Linked DNA regions of Homo sapiens. The protein of the gene in region 1 interacts with the protein of each later gene in a pairwise test. Each region holds a gene or a part of one and is shown in the gene's direction. Other genes may lie near its edges.

Region 1 (5,667 bases):
TGGGATCTAAACTCTGAGCACCTGCTGTGTTCTTTGTATTAAAAAATTCCACTTTGATGGTGGGGTCTCATTCCTTCATTCTTTCAGTAGATTTTTATTGGCCACCTATTTCTCATGTGTCCAGTTATGTGCGGGATGCCAGGAAAGTAGTGAGCACAAAAGATGCAGTCCCTGTCTTTCTGGCAATTATGGTCTGATAGCTTTGATAACTGCTGGTTAATTGAGATAGTCTATTATATAGTCAGAGTGTGTACATGAAAGCTGGTCCTGTGTGAAGAGCAGTACCCCCTACCTAAAGTGTGCTTCAAAGGCATGTGCTGAAGAAACCAGTCCCACACTGTGAAGATGATGATAAAAACCAACGTGTATCACCACGTGCCTGGCAAAGAACTTCCTTTGCCTTCTTTCCCCCACTCTTCCTTCTACATAGGAAGTAATTTCCTGTGAGGCAGCCAGATTCACAGGGAAATTACCTCCAACCTGGTGCCAGTCACTGGGCCAGCCTCGGGTTAAGACACTTTCTCTGGGTCTCAGTGTCTTTGACTTTAAAATGAGGAGTTAGGCCATTGATAGTAAGTGTCCCAAGGAGCCAGTGGTTTCAGAGCTGGTTTATACTAGCATTTGTGCATATCTCTTCCTAACTCCGTGTTCAGTGGCAACACATTTTTTAGATTGAAATAAGCCATGGTGGGAATAATAACACCATGGAAATTGGCAAATGCTACATCAGAGCTTTTTTTTCCTCTTGGAGTTCAAGTTGTTAAACCTTTGCCAGCTGACACTGCTATTGTCTGAGCCAAGGTGCTTTTGGTTTGTTTTTTTAGTAGAAAACAGACTCTTTAGCCTAGACAAAGATCCTAGATATAGGGTGTATGATTCAAGTCCTCTAAAATTTTTGATAAGGAAAAAAATCTGTTTTCATCATATTCTAAAATATAGATCAGCAAACTTTTTGTGTAAAGGGACAGGTAGTGAAATATTTTAGGCTTTTTGGGTTATGGTTATACAGTTTCTATTGCAGCTACTCAGCTCTGGTGTTGAAGCACGAAAGCGGCAATAGACAACATGCAAACAAACAAGCATGGCTGTGTTCCAGTCAAACTTGATTTACAAAAACAAGGGCCAGCCATAGTTTGCAGACTCCTGACCTAGACTATCAGAACAAGAACCATGTTTCAAAGAGAGAGTTTTATGGAAAAGGAGATTCTTCAGGACTTTATGCGTGAATACCAGAAACTTGAGTCTCCAAGATGGACGTAGCGGGCAGTAGTAACTGTAGAGGATTTGGAATCAATCATGGAAGACTCCATAGTAGGTTGTTTAAAGGAAGGCCAAGTGTGTTGAAGTTTTGAGGACAGAGCCACATATGGGTCTTATTCCCAACTCCCTCCCTGGAGCCATCTCAGATGTTATGCTAGAATGGATGTACCTGCAGTCTAACCCGTTGTGTGAATTTTGCATATTATTATGCAAAAACTAGTAGTGTCTCTAAGAGCTGTCTTGATTCCAGGGGCAGAGACAAAGGAAATGTTAAAAAGGATGGAAAGGCCCAGGCACCGTGGCTTACGCCTGTAATCCCAGCACTTTGAGAGTCCAGATCGCTTGAGCCCAGGAGTTCAAGACCAACCTGGGCAACATGACAAAACCCCATCTCTACCAAAAATACAGAAAAAAATTAAAGCCAGGTGTGATGGCACATATCTGTAGTCCCAGCTACTTGGGAGGCAGAGGCAGGAAGATCACCTGGGAAGTCCAGGCTGCAGTGAGCCATGATTGCATCACGGCACTCCAGCCTGGGCAATAGAGTAAGACCCTGTCTCAAAAAAAAAAAATCCTCGTTATATATGTATATGATACATTGTAGAGTACACTGTGTGTGTATACCTGTGTGTATGCATATTTGTACATCTATGTGTACATAAGTTGTGTGCATGTGTCATTACATATTCCATTCCATGTATTTAAAGTAGCATCATGAATGTTTAGAAGATAGACCAGTAGCCAGTTCTGGGCAGTGGAATGAGGTAGAAGGAAGCCAGAGAACTTTTGTTACTTTTCATAATAACAGATGTGTGCCTATCTTATAAGGGAGGATAGCCTGTAGCATTCATATATTGCTTTTACAACATAGTAAACCTAAAATCCCAACAACGTATACTTTCGGAAGGAAAATAGAGTTATTTCTCTGATAGGAATGTTGCCACCATCCTCCTCCCCCAATTAAAAAAAACTGCTTTGTCATATCACAGCTCTGAACTTGTATATATAATATTAGTATAAAAATAAGAGAGAGACTCTCAAGTCAAAACATTTTATTTAACAGTATTAATGTTTGACTCTTGTCCAGGGTTAGTAATACTAGTTCAAAGTGTTCCTTAGCAAGCTATTGTGCAGCCTTTACACTGGTGTTACAAAATAGTGTTGTATAGTTTTTAAACTAAAAAAAGCATGTTACACAGCAGTATTTCCCTGTGATTCTGTATTTCTGAGGAGAGAAAGCATGTGCATATATGTACGAGTGTGCCCCTGCATGTACAAAGGCAGCGGATATGCCAAAACATTGAGTGCTTTTCTCTAGGTGATACAGCACACTTGCTTTTTAGATTTTCTTCATTTTAGCTTATCGGGGTTTTCAAGCATGAATAAATATTACATTTGACATTACCAAAATCAACCCCTACAGTATGTTTACACCTGGTATGTTGAGGACAGTTCTTCCATCTTTCTTAGGCTGTCTTACCACCAGCTTACCTGGTGGCAGACTCCAGCTACTGTCTCCCAGTGAGAAATGTGAGGAGTGTGAGGCATGGCGAACCGAAAAACAGGCACACTTACCATGTAGTCACATTGTGCTGTGTCTGCTTCCCCTGTAGAGTCTGTCTGACCTTGGCCTCGCCCTCTCACTTCAGTTGACTGGCACCATCAGCTGACCGTCTCCCTAGATCGACTGGCCTTCATTTCTTTTTTTTTTTTTTTCCTTTTCTCTATTTTTAATGGAAAATCTCAGACATACAAAGTGGGGAGGAGAGTATAAACCCTCAGCCTCAACGACTGTGAACAGTGATAATTGGCCAATTTTGTTTCCTCTATACTTTTTTTTTTTTTTTTGAGACAGCGTCTCACTCTGTCACACAGGCTAGAGTGCAGTGGTGCAACCTCAGCTCACTCCAACCTCCACCTCCCGGGTTCAAGCAATTCTTCTGTCTCAGCCTCAGAATAGCTGGAATTACAGGCGTGCGCCACCACGCCCAGCCGATTTTTGTATTTTCAGTAGAGATGGGGTTTCACCATGTTGGCCAGGTTGGTCTCGAATTCCTTACTTCAGGTGATCCGCCTGCCTCAGCCTCCTGAAGTGCTGGGATTACAGGCATGAGCCACTGCGCCTGGCTCTTCCCTTATACTTTTCTTCAACATCACCTCTTTTTCTTTCTGGCAAGAGTTGGCATCTTCATTTGCAGCTGTATAAATTAACGAGAATCACTTATTAGGTCTTTTAGGAATAAGCATGTATTGACTGCTGTAGCAAAAATCTTAAAACTGTTCTGCCCTAATGTCAGCCATACTGAACTGCTGAGGAGCCCCTGAACACTTGCTGCGCTATCCTGTTTCTCTACTTTGGTATTTGCTCTTTACTCTGCCTGTGCATCTGAATTCATCTTCCACTTCGTAGTTCTCTGTAAAGCCTTTCTTGAATCCCACTTGTAGCTGTCTCTTTCCTTTGACTTTTCTTATAACCCTCATCCTATTGTATTTGTGTGCTTATCTTAGTCTCCTTGTCAGATTGCAGTCTTCAAATAAGAGAAGGAATGTGTGCCTATCTTCTTTTCCTCTATGGTATTTAGCAATGCGTAATACAAAGAAGATACTCAAGAAATACATGCTAAAATAATTTGAATTGATTAAGTTCACTGGAGAAAAATTTTGAGTATAAAAGAAATCCATCACATTAAAAGAAAAATTTTCAAATATGACCTAGGACCAAGAACATTTTCTTTCATCTGTTTGGATTTTAAAAGATTTTAAAGAATCATGGTGAAAAGAGTCTTAAATTTGAGCCATGAAAAGAGTCTTAAATTCGAGCCAATATAAAAACGTAGCTTTCTAAAAAGAAAATGTTTTTAATGATCTTTTGTCATTTTTTCACAAATATATCTGGAGCCTGTGGGTCTTCTCTAATCATACAATGCATCCCCTCACCTCCCCCCACCAGGCGAAAGACCTGAAAAAATACAACTGAATAATATTGGGTCACTTGTATTGGATAAGAGTGATTCTTGACTATATTTTAAATACTTGTTTTAGAATGTATATTTAAATCTTCAGTAAAAGAAACAGGCTACATTTAGAGCTTACCATAGGTAAGTCAATAGCAATCTCATGAATTATGGTAGCTCACGGGGATATAGTTCCCAGAATATGCAGTGCTTTCGTGTGTTACCTCATTTAATTATCCTAGCAGCCCTTGTCATCTGGGCAGAGCAGTGCAGACAGACATTGTTACCTAAAATCTGCAAAGAAGTAAACTAAGGTTTAAGAATATAGAAGAAATCTTGTCCTCAGCAGCAAGTGGCAGAGACTGACTTTAAGAATCAATTGGAAACCAAGAGTCTTTGGGATTAGATGTTGCAAATATGTGAAGACGCAAAAGCATCTAAGCATGTCTTTGGGAGACGGAACAGGTTCTTGTGCCCCTTAATGCCATAGACCTATTGAAACAATATCACACTCTCTGAGCCAGTTGTTCCTCAGATTCCTCATGTTCTGCTGTTATCTTTGGTGTCAAAAATTAATCCACCTTAGATGAATTAGTAAGGCTGTTTGTACATGAGTGCTGGTGTGGTTCTCTCTCATCCTCTTGTCTTGATCTAAGGAGAACCCTGGGCAAGCCCATCTTTGGATAGTGTAACTTGTCTGGGCCACTGCTCGCAAAACAGACATGTATGGAACACTTAATTATTCAACATCCTTGTCATCCTTTCTATAACTGCTATTGTGGAATTACATGGCAAGTTGCAAGTTGTGGCATAGTTCATGAAGAAGAGGTGTCAGTCTAGGAAAGTATCCTCCTACATGATTACCAGGTTTGAATTTTTGGTTCAGAACAGATAAGATAAATAAGCCATTGCCAAGAATCTGCGATGTACAAGAGCTATGATGGGTGGACATTTGAAAGGTACAATTTTGTATTAACGGCAGAATCAAAAGTAGCCTCAGGATTGGTTTTAAGGATGTTATGTTTCATAAACCCTTATTTTCTTAGATAAGAAATCAGTCTAAGTGCTAATAATGCCTATATTATTTACATCAACCCATTCTTTAAAAGTTACCATACAAATTTTGCCAAAATCAAGGATGTTTTAGGGAACATGAGGTTTACCATCTCGTCCCCATATATGTGCTTTAGAGCTTGGAGATTGTTTTAAAATGAGATTTATTTTTTTTAAATGCATTTGGTTTTTTGGATCTTAATATGTTAAATGACTGTAAAATGATATCACTTGTGCAGCCTGTTGGGAGGAGCATGGTGCAAGAGAGTTGGTTCTGACATCAGGAGCCTGAGTTTGACTTCCAGTTTGGTCACTTACCAGCCATGAGACCATGGCAAGATACTTAGCCCGTCAGATCCTGTCTTCTCTCATGTGAAATGGGATGGTGATGCCCTTGTCA
Region 2 (3,362 bases), on another chromosome or scaffold:
CTAGTGTAAAAATCCATCTATTGAAATGACAGTTGAGTAATCTGCACTATTTTTAATTAGTTTACTATTTTGTAAAGTTTGTTATTTTCTGATATTTATAGAAATAGTTTTGCTAATTAAGTGTTTGATATTACACATATAGAATATAGCATATACATATTATAACAGGCTGCTTTTCAAATCTCTAACTGGAGAACTTCCATTTATAGGTATACATTTCATTTATACTAGTTTTCAAAGTGTAGCAACTAATGTAAACCAAGAAAACACATAAGGATTTATGCGGTTGAAAAGCATAACCTGCCATCTTAATCAATTTTCAAATTAATCAACTACCATTTTTATGCTGATATTTTTCTTTACAAGCAGAACCTACTTTGGGACACCATGAAAACCCCTTCAAAGAGTCACCATTATGAGATAATAGGTGACATGATCCTAATGTGTTTTCTCTCATTCTTAACTGTATTATATTGCCATTCTGTAATAACCAAAATCTTTCTTTTTCCAACCTCTCTATAATGAAGAAATTATAATCAAAAACTAGTAAATATCTATTTTAGAAAATCATAGTAAATGCTTGGGTATTTATGTTTTTTAAAAAGAGTCTTTTAGTCCTAAATCTAGTATAAATATGAGAGGGAAACTTCTTGAACAAAATAACTTTCATATATATATATATATATATATATATATATATATATATTTTTTTTTTTTTTTTTTTTTTTTTTTTTTTTTTGAGACAAGGTCTTGCTCTGTCACCCAGGCTGGAGTGGAAGGGTGCGATCTCAGCTCACTGCGACCTCTGCCTCCTGGGTTCAAGCAATTCTCGTGCCTCAGCCTCTTGAGTAGCTGGGATTACAGGCATGCAGCACCACACCCAGCTTATTTTTGTATCTTCAGTAAAGACGGGTTTTTGCCGTGTTGGCCAGGCTGGTCTCAAACTCCTGGCCTCAAGCAATCCATCTGCCTTGGCCTCTCAAAGTGCTGGGATTATAGGCGTGAGCCACTGCACCCAGCTGCTTTCCTCTTACAACTTTTTAAAGCTGTATTCTTTCTTTCACAATTCATAATTGAGTGAAAGGAAAAAGATTTGATTTTTTTTTCCTCACAAATATAAGGCATATAATATTCTTAGAAAATTTCAAGCCTTACTATTGAGATAACCCTTACAAATTTAAACATTTTTAGCTGCTTTATTGGCTTTAAATGATTAAGTTCATAATTGCAAGTCATCTGGTTTCTAAACTGCTAGCCTTATTAGTTCCAAAGTATTGTTGATGCTTTTGTTTCAATATCCCCCCAAAAAACAAAAACTAAAAAAAAAAGTACCACTTATTTATGCTTTGAAACTAGCTGAATGTTGTTAATGATATAAAATGATGCTTTAACAAATGGAACAATATTTGGGGCCCTCCTTAAAAGCGAATAGTATTATACATATACATGATATATTCTTTTTAGTGAAAATGTAGTAAATGGTACAGTAATTAAATTTGATAAAAAGAATAATGTATTCTAGTACATAAGTTCGTAATAAAGTATCAATTGTGATATATTGATAAAAGCTTTTGGTCCTAAAAGTAAAGCTGAAATTGTTTATCATCAGACTGTTACTCTGATAATAGGTAACTTGAATCAAGTTGAGTTGTGAAAAAAGGTAAGAATGTCAACTGAGAATAAATAAATACTGGTACAAATATTCTGATTCTGCAGTGATATATCAAGGAGTAAATACCCCTGGACAACCAGTCTTCCTGGAGGGGCAGCAACAGGTTTAAAAAGTTTATATCCCACTGGATATTCTACTTTCCGTTCCATTCCTCTTACATGAAAATGCACCTTGCATGTAAAGCTTGACTTTCTCATTTGCTTTTAATTGTACCCCTTAGCAGCTCATGGCATACAGTGCTTATGCCATGAACAAGGAAGGCCAAATTATTCAAGGATATTAAGTAATGTAGAAACTAAGTTTTGTCAGAAAGCTACATACCATACCACAAGTCTCCATGAATAAAGCCAGAAAGCTACATTTGAAGATGATCTCGTTTTATATAATAAGACTATCAAAACTTGGGTATCAATATTTCTTTAATATTTTCATTTTTTAAATGTAGAGAGACTTTTTTAAAGATAGTTGACAGCATAGTTTCCTTACATTCATGATGCAATTCAGAGAACTGAACATTTCAAACATTTTTTTTGATGTTCTGAGCATTTTTTATGGAAAGAGGATACAAAAATAGATCCAATATTTAGAGGCTGGGCGTGATGGTTCTCGCCTATAATCCCAGCACTTTGGGAGGCTGAGGTAGGTGGATCGCTTGATCCCAGGAGTCCAAGATCAGATTGGGCAACATGGCAAACTCCCATCTCTACAAAAAGTACAAAACTTAGCCAGGTGTGGTGGCACATGCCTATAGTCCTAGCTACTTGGAGAGCTGAGGCAGGAGGATCACTTGAATCTGGAAGGTCGAGGAGGCTTCAGTGAGCCAAGATCTCCAGCTTAGGTGACAAAGTGAGACTTTGTCTCAAAAAAATAAAAAATAAAAAAAATAAATTGGGAAACTTACATATTTAAAATATTCCCATTACAAATTCACAAGTAGAATATCTGTAACCCATCTATCTGTTGAAGATTTTGGACATTTTCATGGGGACTCAAATTATTTCACGTTTATGAACTTAAAAGGAAAGAAAATTCCAGGCTCTATTACAAAATGTATCAAGCAATAAATGAGTACTATCATATATATGTGATTCACCCCCATTTGGAATTGCAAATTAAGAGTTTTTTGCAGCTGGGTATGCAACCTGATAAAAACCCTGATAATGTAGATCTATGCCTGAGTTTACAATATTTGTTTTGTGAGTTTCCAGAGATAATAACAGCTTTCAAAAGAGGAAAAAAGTAAGGTTCTTTTTTGAAAGCTTTGTAGATTGTATATAGAATAGCTTTGTAACATAAGGTTTTGTGTCTATTTAGATCAGTCATATATATTCCATGCAGAATACAATATTATAGAATACACTAGTCTAATATTTGTACTTGATAATTTTGCCTTTTAGAATTTCAACATATATATATGTACACTAACACTTTGTCTATTGTCTATGTTTTTCTTTTGTTGAAAAACACGATATATATATGTTGTAGGGTTTTGGTTTTTGTATTTGTTTTAAGCTAATGGTTTGGAAGCTCTTACCATAGATATTCACTATACAATCAGAATGACTTTGCCACCTATTCAGGCAAAGTAGTTGTGCATATTAATAAATGTTTTACATATTAATGATCCTTTTGACGTGACTGGATCCCCACCCTTCATTTCATGTGCTTCTATTTTCCTACATCTTTTACA
Region 3 (4,583 bases), on another chromosome or scaffold:
AAGGAGTCAAGGCCAGGTGGCTCATGTCTGTAATCCCAGTGCTTTGAGAAGCTGAGGCAGGAGCATCACTTGAGTTCAAGAGTTTGAGACCAGCCTGGGAAACCAAGCAAGACCCTGTGTCTCCAGAATATTTTAAGAATAATAATTAGCCAGGCATGGTGGTATGTAACTGTAGCCCTAGCTACTCTGGAGGCTGAGGTGGAAGGTTTGCTTGAGCCCAGGAGTTTGAGGCTACAGTGAGCCATGAATGCACCATTGCACTCTAGCCTGGGCAACAGAGCAAGACTCTATCTCTTCTTGTTTAAAAAAGAAAAAAAAAAAAAAGAGTCAAGAGATATTTTGCCGGTAGAATTAACCTGGAGAGAAAGGTGTCAGTGAAACCTCTGAGGTTTCAAGGATGGAAGGATGGTGATAATGTTACACAAGATGGAGCACACAGGAGAGAAGCAGTATTTGGGATTGGGAGGGGATGGGGTTGGCCTTCATTAACTGAATTGGTAGACTGTGGCCTTCAGAATTCCAGATGGACACTCGTGTGGAAATGCCTAGCAAAGCACCTAAAATTCACATCTAGGGCTCAGGAGAAAGAGCAAAATGGAAAAGATAGATGGGAATGTTATTTATAAAGCAATGAGGAAAGCAGCCAAGCCTTCCGAGAGAGGCCTGAGAGCAGGCCACTGAACACTCCGTATTTAGAGGAAAGACAGAGAAAAGGATCCAGTCAAGGAAAGTGAGAAAGGGTGGCCAGAAATGTAGGCAGAGATCTGGAAGACCACAGTGCCCTGGCAGCTGAAAGGGCCAACAACAAAAATATCAACGGCATCAAATGCTATAGTAATGCAGGTAGGAAGAGGACGAAGAGGAAACCAGAGAATTTGGCAATGAGAGGTCAGGGTGACCTTTCAGTAGCTGATGGTGAAAGAAGCTGTGTCAGTTCAGGTTTTTGAGAAGCGCCTAGCAAGACAGATTAGACACACAAGGAATTTATTGGGGAAATTCTTGTGAAGAAGGAAGCAAAAGGAAGCAGGAGGTGGCAAGGAGAGTCTGGAGACCATAACAGAGGTCCGACACCTGTGAGAGGAGAAGGCGAAGGAGGGATTGGTTGGAGGCACGTCAGGCTGCGGTGCACTTCTGAGAAGGCTGCAGTGAGGCTGATGGGGTATCCCTGAGCAAAGGATGCCTGTTAGGGAGATCCTGCATCGGGCGGGGACGGCCATGAGAAAAGCCCTGTCACGCTTGTCATTGGCTTGCAGCATCCCAGAGAACACATGCCTCCCTTCCTGCAGCAGATGCTCTTGGTTTTTTTGTTTTGGTTTGGGTTTTTTGTTTGTTTTGTTTTGTTTTGTTTTGTTTTGTTTGAGTCTTGCTCTGTCACCCAGGCTGGAGTGCAGTGGCATAATCTCAGCTCACTGCAACCTCCTCCTCCCGGGTTCAAGCGATTCTCCTGCCTCAGTGTCCCCAGTACTGGGACTACAGGCGCCCACCATCATGCTTGGCTAGTTTTTGTATTTTTAGTAGAGAGGGGGTTTTGCCATGTTGGCCTGGCTGGTCTTGAACTCCTGACCTCAGGTGATCCTTCCGCCTCGGCCTCCCGAAGTTCTAGGATTACAGGCATGAGGCACACCGTGCCCAGCCAGCAGATGCTCTTGAAGGAGACCTGAGGTTATGTTTGCGTGGCACCACAGAAGCCAGAGTGACCATAAGCAGGAAGTAGAAACACTAGAATTCTGGTCTAAGCTGCTGTCATCTCTATACACAGCATGGCTGAAACAGAAGAGCCACGCAGAAGTTAGCAGGTAGGCAGGGCCTGGTAAGAAGGCCATAAGCTGTGGCGCTTTCACCCAAAGCCATCATGAAGACCCATAACTAAGTGGCTGGCCAAGGTCACAAGGTTTCATAGAATTGCCAGGACGAGAGCCAGCTGTCCATCTTCGCTTGGCGTCCCTGGCTCTCTCCTCAAACCCTGTGCTCTCCCTGTACTTCCAATCACATGCGGGGTTTGGTCTATCACCGTTCGTACCCAGTGGACACTGATGCCTTTGATGTATGTTTTTCTTTCAACGATGGTGTGTTGAAGGATTCTGTTACCTCCATTCCTCCATTTCTGTACAAGTAAGTTAATACAAGTAAGTAAGTACTGTAGGAAAATGAGCTCCTCCCGCGCCCAGGGAGGAGGTAGGAGGACGATTCCACCTGTCTTTGTGGTGAGCGCTGAAGGAGGATCTTGAGAAAGGCACCTGTGTGCAGCGGCATTCTCATCTCTAAAGCCCGCATGGCTTCCCGTGTGCACACAGGACATTCTGCCCATGTTTACCAAATGAAGACACCAACTAACTACCCTGTCTTTCCTTCTAGGTGACCTCATACATTTGCCTCCATACCTTAGAATGGACTTTTTGTTAAACCGAGGTGGTCCAGGCACCAGCAGGGACCTGAGCTTAGGACAAGCATGCTTGGAACCTCAGAAAAGCCGGACCCTGAAGCGCCCCACGGTCCTGGAGCCCATCCCGATGGAAGCCGCCTCCTCCGCCTCCTCCACGAGAGAAGGACAGTCGTGGCAGCCGGGGGCCGTGGCCACATTACCTCAGCGGGAGGGAGCAGAGCTGGGACAGGCAGCTAAAATGAGCAGCTCCCAAGAATCACTGCTCGACTCCCGGGGCCATTTGAAAGGAAACAATCCTTACGCAAAATCTTACACCCTGGTATAACAGACAGCATGACTGGACAGCGGTTGTAAATACAATTCAAACAATTCAATCAAAGCTACCTTTTTTTTACGGAATTCCAATATTTATAATTAAAGAAAATTGCCAAAATATATTAAAAAAAAAAAAGAGAAAATACTGAAACCACAGACAGTGCAAAGACTCTCCTGCTTTTTTTCTGTCTGAGTGTGAGCTCCATCCGCCTGGGCATCTGATTTTTTGGGAAAGAAGTCCAGTTTTATGATCTTCACAGGCTATTGCATTTTTACTGATTTTCTACAAAAGTGCATGGGGGGGATTAATTAAACCTTCTGACTGGAAGTTCTATCACACAAGAGGCAAGAAAGAAAACAGGGTGGGTGGGAAATCAGCCTATTTGTGAATTTAAAAGGAACACCGATTTGCGGGCAGGGGAAAACTTCAGTCACGTTTGCACACCTTTCTTTCCCATTAGAAACCGGGTTCTCAATTTGGTCTTCTTTTGTTGTTAATTAGGATGAGTGCCGTCAGTGAAGGGGTGGGGGGAATCAATTTGGTTTTCTCTCTTGTTTCTTTTTTAATTTAATGAGACACTCTTTGCATTTTGTCTAAGCGAAATAAAAAAGAAAAGGTTGTCTGCCTTTATTTCCATGTCTGCTTCTCTCGTCTTCTGCCAGTGGCCTGGTCCTCCTTCCCATTGACACTTCTGTTTGGAAACACCAGGCCTGAACCCAGAGCCCAATTCAATAAACCAGAGTCGATACTAACACCCTGAACTCCTCAGGAATCTCCAGGAAGCACAAAGAAGGTGCAGCTCCTGCTCTCAAGCTGGAGAGGACAAAATGCAGGCTGGTCTCCACCGCAACCAGAGGCCAGCCCAAGTATTCGAAGCCCGTCGCAAAGCTCTGCCCCTTGCCTGCCCATGGCCAGAGTTCAACTGACTGTGGCCTATGGGCCAAATCCAGCCTCCTGCTGTTTTTTAAATAAAGTTTTATTGAAACAAGGCCACATGCACTATTTGCTATTGTCTATGGCTGCTTTCATGGCACAATGGTAGAGCTGAATAGTTGCAGCAGAGATGGTATAGCCCATGAAGCCTAAAATATTTATTACCTGGCCCATTACAGGAAACATTTGCCAGACCCGTGCTCTGGAGTCTGAAATGTAGCCCCAGCTTGCGTGACAAGGGGCAAGATCGTGCATCTTACCCTCCATGACTTTTCCTATCTCCACTATGCCTGGTATGCAAATTTGTGATAGACCATCTTAATAAACATTGCCTGAATCCTCTGTAACCAGAGGAAAGTGATGTTCCTCTAAAATCTAAGTTTTTACTTTCCTTTCCCTCACTTTATCTCCCATGTGGCTCATCCTAAGAGAGAATTTACTCATAAATAGTCGGAACTGCATTCTTTATCCCACAACCCTCACAGGGTTTGCTTTATGAAAGAGGATGTAATCCTCCCCTGGCTGCAACACTCCATTCCAGGCTCACTTCCATAAAATGGAAAGATAAACAGGTCTTTGTGTCAGAGATTTGGCATTAACCAGAAAACATGATCAAATATCCACAGCTGCTCAGTCTCCCAGGCTGAAGATTCTCTACAGGCTTCCATTAAGGCCACCAACATAGACTGGTGCCAGTTATTACCATCTTGGGAACATATTCAGAAATGTCTTTCCTTCCCTCCCTCCCTCCTTCTTTCCCATCCTTTCTTCCTTCTATTTATTTTCCAGGCAGGCCCATTTGTCTGCTTAGATTCAGTGACACAGAATGGGTCCAGGACCATGTCAAGACCACCTGCTGATGCTAGTGTTAGATGACTCCAGGAATGTGAGGTGTGCATCCATGGTTTCAGAATGTAATCCGTGTTGACGTGTACTGTTTGCATACTCTCA
Region 4 (4,583 bases), on another chromosome or scaffold:
TTTTTTTTTTGAGACAGAGTCTTGCTCTGTCACCCAGGCTGGAGTGCAATGGCATGAGCTGGGCTCATTGCAAACTCTGCCTCCTGGGTTCAAGCGATTCTCCTACCTCAGCCTCCCAAGTAGCTGAAATTACAGGCACCCACCACCAGGCCCAGCCAATTTTTGTATTTTGGGTAGAGACCGGGTTTCACCATGTTGGCCAGTCTGGTCTGGAACTCCTGACCTCAGATGATCCACCCACCTTGGCCTCCCAAAATGCAGGGATTACAAGTGTGAGCCACCACGCCCGGCCTGAAATTGCTATTTTACCACATCTAATGGAATGTAAAAAGCTTACCGTCATGTAGGTTCCTCTGTTCTCTCCCATTTTTGTTACATTTATCTCATGTATTACATCTACATACATCTAATGCCCCATCAGACAAGGTTATAATTTTTGCATTTAATCATCAATCATATTTTAAAGAGCTCAAGGGAAGAACAGTCTATTGTATTTACTTAGGTCTTTACCAGTTCTGTTACTCTTCCTACATTCTTGAAGTTTCAAGTTTCAAGTTTCCCTCTGGTTTCATTTGAAGAATTTCCTTTAGCAATTCTTTTAGAGCAGGTTTGCTGGTGATGAATTCTAAGTGTCCTTCATCTGAGAATGTCTCGATTTAATCTTCTTTCCTGAAGGATATTTTCACTGCATATGGGATTCTGGGCTTTTTGTTATGGTTTTGTACTCCAAAAGAAAGCAGGAAAGAGAAAACAGAGGATAAAGATCAGCGAGAACAAACAGAAAACACATCCTAAAATGGTAGACCTCAACCCAACATTATGAACATCAACATTTTCCAGCAGTTTTTAAATTTTTTTCTTCTGGTCTCTAAGGTTTCTAATGAGAAACACACAGTTATTCAAGCTGTTGTTCCCTATATGTAGTGTACCATTTTTATCTGGTTCCATTCTACACCTTTTCTGTGTCATTAGCTTTTGGAAATGATGTTGTCTGGGTGTGGATTTCTTTGGGCTTACTTTGGAGTTCAGTGATCTTCTTTAATCTGTAGGTTTATGTTTTGGCAAGTTTGTGGAATATTCAATCATTCTTTCTTCAATTTTTTTTTTTTGCACTGCACCCTTTTTCCTCTAATTCTTTGACTGTGATGATAGTAATGTTAGCTATTTGGGCATTATCTTACAGGTCTCTGAAGCTCCGTTCATTTTTTTTTCTAATCTTTTTTTCTCCTCTATTGTCCAGATCAGATAATTTCTATTGATCTATCTTGAAGTTCACTGGCTCTTTCTTATCATCTCATCTCCATTCTGCTATTGATTTCACCTAGTGAGTTTTTATTTCACTTATTATACTTTTTAGTTCTAAAATTTCCTTTTGGTTCTTCTTAATAACTCTATTTATTTGCTAAGACTTTCTATTTTTCTATTATTCCTAAAAGTATATTCACTCTTACTTTCCTTTTCTCTTTTTCCTTCTTGCCGTCAGTGACAGAACACCCATACTTCTTGGAGTCTTTTTACATTGATTACCATAAAAACTCTGTTAATAATTCCTACATCTATAGGATCTCAGTTTAGGCATCTGTTGAATATCTTTCCTCAAGGGAGTTTTTCTTCTGCTTCTTTTTAGGCTGAGTGATTTTGTATTGTATGCTGAGAAATTTGGGGTTGTATCCTGGACATTTAAAATATCTAAATACGTGAGATTCTGGGTTTGTCTAAATCTGTTGGGTCAGTGGTACTTCAAATTCTGGTCTTCTTGCTCAGTCTGCTGCTACCATTTACTTTTCAGTCTGCAAATAACTGCAGAATTCATTCTGTCCAGGTTTTATAGCTACATTCAGTAGGAAAAACTGGATGGAGTGTGCTTCCTTCATCTTACCTGAAACCAGAACCTGTCTTGATAGGCAAATTAACAAATTAGGCCAATAATTTTAAAAAGTTAAGGCTGTAATTTTTATATGATAAATTGATATTATATATTTATAAATATTATATATTGATAAATTCTTATAAATTTTTTACTACTCTACCACAGTTATATTACTGAACATTATTTTTTTCTTCTTTTTTTTTTGGAGACAGAGTCTCTGTTGCCCAGGCTGGAGTGCAGTGGCGTGATCTCAGCTCACTGCAACTTCTGCCTCCCGGGTTGAAGCCATTCTCCTGCCTCAGCATCCTGAGTAGCTGGGACTACAGGCTTGCACCACCATGCCAAGCTAATTTTTGTATTTTTAGTAGAGACAGAGTTTTGCCATGTCGGCCAGGCTGGTCTCAAACTCCTGGCCTCAAGTGATCCTTCCACCTCAGCCTCCCAAAGTGCTGGGATAATAGGCATGAGCCACCGTGCCCGGCCTTGAACATTATTTTTTTCATCACTGCCAGATACCTGGCTCTTTGGCTGTATTATACTTTCCTGTCTCCTCTGTTCTATTTCCCATTCTGCCCGTTGATTGTCAGTTGCCCATTGTCTTTTTTCAGCTGAGACAAGGTTGGAATTTTCCAAAAGGAACTTTATGAAGGAGATGGGATGATACATACAACTGTATTGATTTGGGGAATGACGATAATTTCAGCTGTGTACAGCACCGCCCTGTCTGTGAAGCCCTTGCACGTCCTTCTCATGTGATCCTCAAATGACCCCTTTGAGACAATCAGATCCAGTTTATTGATCCCATTTCACAGTTGAGGTAACTGGACTTTTAGATGTCTGATATGATCTTCTCAAGGTCTCTCAGTTTCGGAAAGGCAGAGCCAGGACCAGGTGGATTTCCTAGCCACAAATCCAATGTACTTACTGCAGTTTTGTGCTTTAGTTTGACAACTAAGGATTTAATGATTTTGTGATTTCGCTAATCCAGTTTACAAAGCATTGTCCTATGCATTTTCCGTGGCCCGAGGTGGTCTTAGGTGAACATGCTTCCTGCAAGATCTTTGGATCTTAGCTTTAGTGAGGTGTGGATGGCACCCGCAATCTGGTAGCGTTCCTCCCAGGCTATAGTTTATTTCAATTTCCTTGAGGTTTTATTAAATACCTAGTACATTTCTGGCACAGCCCCCAAGCAAGCCTAGGAGACAGAAGGATGAATAAGACCGTTCCTAGACTCCTGGCCTCTATGGGCCCCAGTTAAATATCTGGACCTTCCTGGCCACCAAGGGGCCTGCAGAAGGCTTTGGGGAGAAGTGTCTTGAGCTTATGGAGTTCTCCTTTCCCTACAGTCCTCCGGGCCTCATATGAACAGGAGAAAGAAGCGCTTACCCACTCTTTCCGGGAGGCCAGTTCTACCCAGCAGGTGAGAGGGGCTGGGTCGTGTCAGTCTTGGATAAGGGTAAGTGAGGACCAATGGGAAAGCAGCATGGAGCCCCAAGGCAGCCAAAACTGATTACGTGTGCCTAGGAGTGAGGGGCTGAGGTGATTGCCTTCTGTGTATCCAGGCCCCTTGATGTAGTAACCAGGCTATTAGCTCAAGAGGACTGAGTGTGAAATTGAGTTGGGCCTATTTTTCCAGGGACTGCTGGGGAGATCTTGGAGAGGCATGGGCCAAGTGCCACAGTGTGATTAGATTCATGGGTGGATGCACAGGGACCTGTGGAAGGATGCAGGGAAGCATCTGACTCAATGTGGCTGTGCAGGAAAGATTTCCTAGAGGGAGTGAGATCTAAGCTGGAGTCTGAAGGATGGGTTGGAATTCTTTGGTAAAGAAGGGTAGGAAGGGTGCCTCAGGCAGAAAAAAAGCAATGTGTTCAAAGACATGGAGGAAAAAGGAAAAATATGGAATACCTGAGGAACCGAAAGATGTCCAGGATGCCTGGGGTATGAGTTTCAGTGGGAGAGGGGACTAAGGCTAAGAACGTGAGCAAGGGCCAGAGTGGAAGCCAGTGAGCCACCTTAAGGGGTTGTGCTCTAGCCTAACGGTAGTGGTCACGGTTCAAGTAGAGAAAGTTCTTGGCAGTGAAACAGTTTGGAGATAAGAATGTACCCTGCAGCTGGGGGACTATTGTGATGTTTGGCTGCAGGAGAGGATGTATAGAAGGAGCAGTGAGAGGTGAGCTTGGAAAAATTCATTGAGCCTGGTTTGGATGTGTTTTGAATGCCAGGCTAACAACCATCTTTTATAGCAGGACATTGTTCCCTGCAGTATGGGGAGCCGTTAAAGGCATTAAAGCAAGAGGTGGGGTTGGTATGTTCCTTTCATCTCCTCTCCTTCTCCCTCTCCTTCTCCTTCTCCCTCCCTCTCCTTCTCCTTCTCTGTCCCCCTCCCTTCCCCTCCCTATCTCCCTCCCCCTCCCGTCCCCCTCCCCTCCCCTCCCGTCTTCTTTTCTTTCCTCTTTTCTTTTCTCTTCTTTCTTTCTCTTCCCAGCATGCAATTCTGCACTGTAAGGGCTGGTAGATCTCAAGCAGTGGTCGAAGTATGTTGATGTTGCATTGTCATGTAGAGTAGCCAAAGACAGATTGAAGAACCCAAAACCGTTCTCCCTCTGGGATGTGGCGAAGTTCACCTACAGCATTTATGAGGCAGGCTTTGATTGTCTCCATCCCACTCCCTGCTCCAGGAGACCATAGACAGACTGACCTCACAGCTGGA

The links.
Region 2: the proteins of ACO1 (region 1) and MYBPC1 interact in a two-hybrid assay, tested with the Homo sapiens proteins (one large-scale study listed by BioGRID and IntAct).
Region 3: the proteins of ACO1 (region 1) and DSCAM interact in a two-hybrid assay, tested with the Homo sapiens proteins (one large-scale study listed by BioGRID and IntAct).
Region 4: the proteins of ACO1 (region 1) and CCDC69 interact in a two-hybrid assay, tested with the Homo sapiens proteins (one large-scale study listed by BioGRID and IntAct).

The regions. Positions count from the first base shown.
Region 1 is NC_000009.12:32,386,709-32,392,375, forward strand, and holds part of ACO1 (cytoplasmic aconitate hydratase), read left to right. Parts: intron 1-5,667. UniProt on the Homo sapiens protein: Bifunctional iron sensor that switches between 2 activities depending on iron availability. Iron deprivation, promotes its mRNA binding activity through which it regulates the expression of genes involved in iron uptake, sequestration and utilization.
Region 2 is NC_000012.12:101,680,888-101,684,249, forward strand, and holds part of MYBPC1 (myosin-binding protein C, slow-type), read left to right. Parts: intron 1-1,716; coding exon 1,717-1,775; intron 1,776-3,362. UniProt on the Homo sapiens protein: Thick filament-associated protein located in the crossbridge region of vertebrate striated muscle a bands. Slow skeletal protein that binds to both myosin and actin.
Region 3 is NC_000021.9:40,011,159-40,015,741, reverse strand, and holds part of DSCAM (cell adhesion molecule DSCAM isoform CHD2-42 precursor), read left to right. Parts: intron 1-2,355; coding exon 2,356-2,708; 3' UTR 2,709-4,583. UniProt on the Homo sapiens protein: Cell adhesion molecule that plays a role in neuronal self-avoidance. Promotes repulsion between specific neuronal processes of either the same cell or the same subtype of cells.
Region 4 is NC_000005.10:151,186,093-151,190,675, reverse strand, and holds part of CCDC69 (coiled-coil domain-containing protein 69), read left to right. Parts: intron 1-3,216; coding exon 3,217-3,290; intron 3,291-4,551; coding exon 4,552-4,583. UniProt on the Homo sapiens protein: May act as a scaffold to regulate the recruitment and assembly of spindle midzone components. Required for the localization of AURKB and PLK1 to the spindle midzone.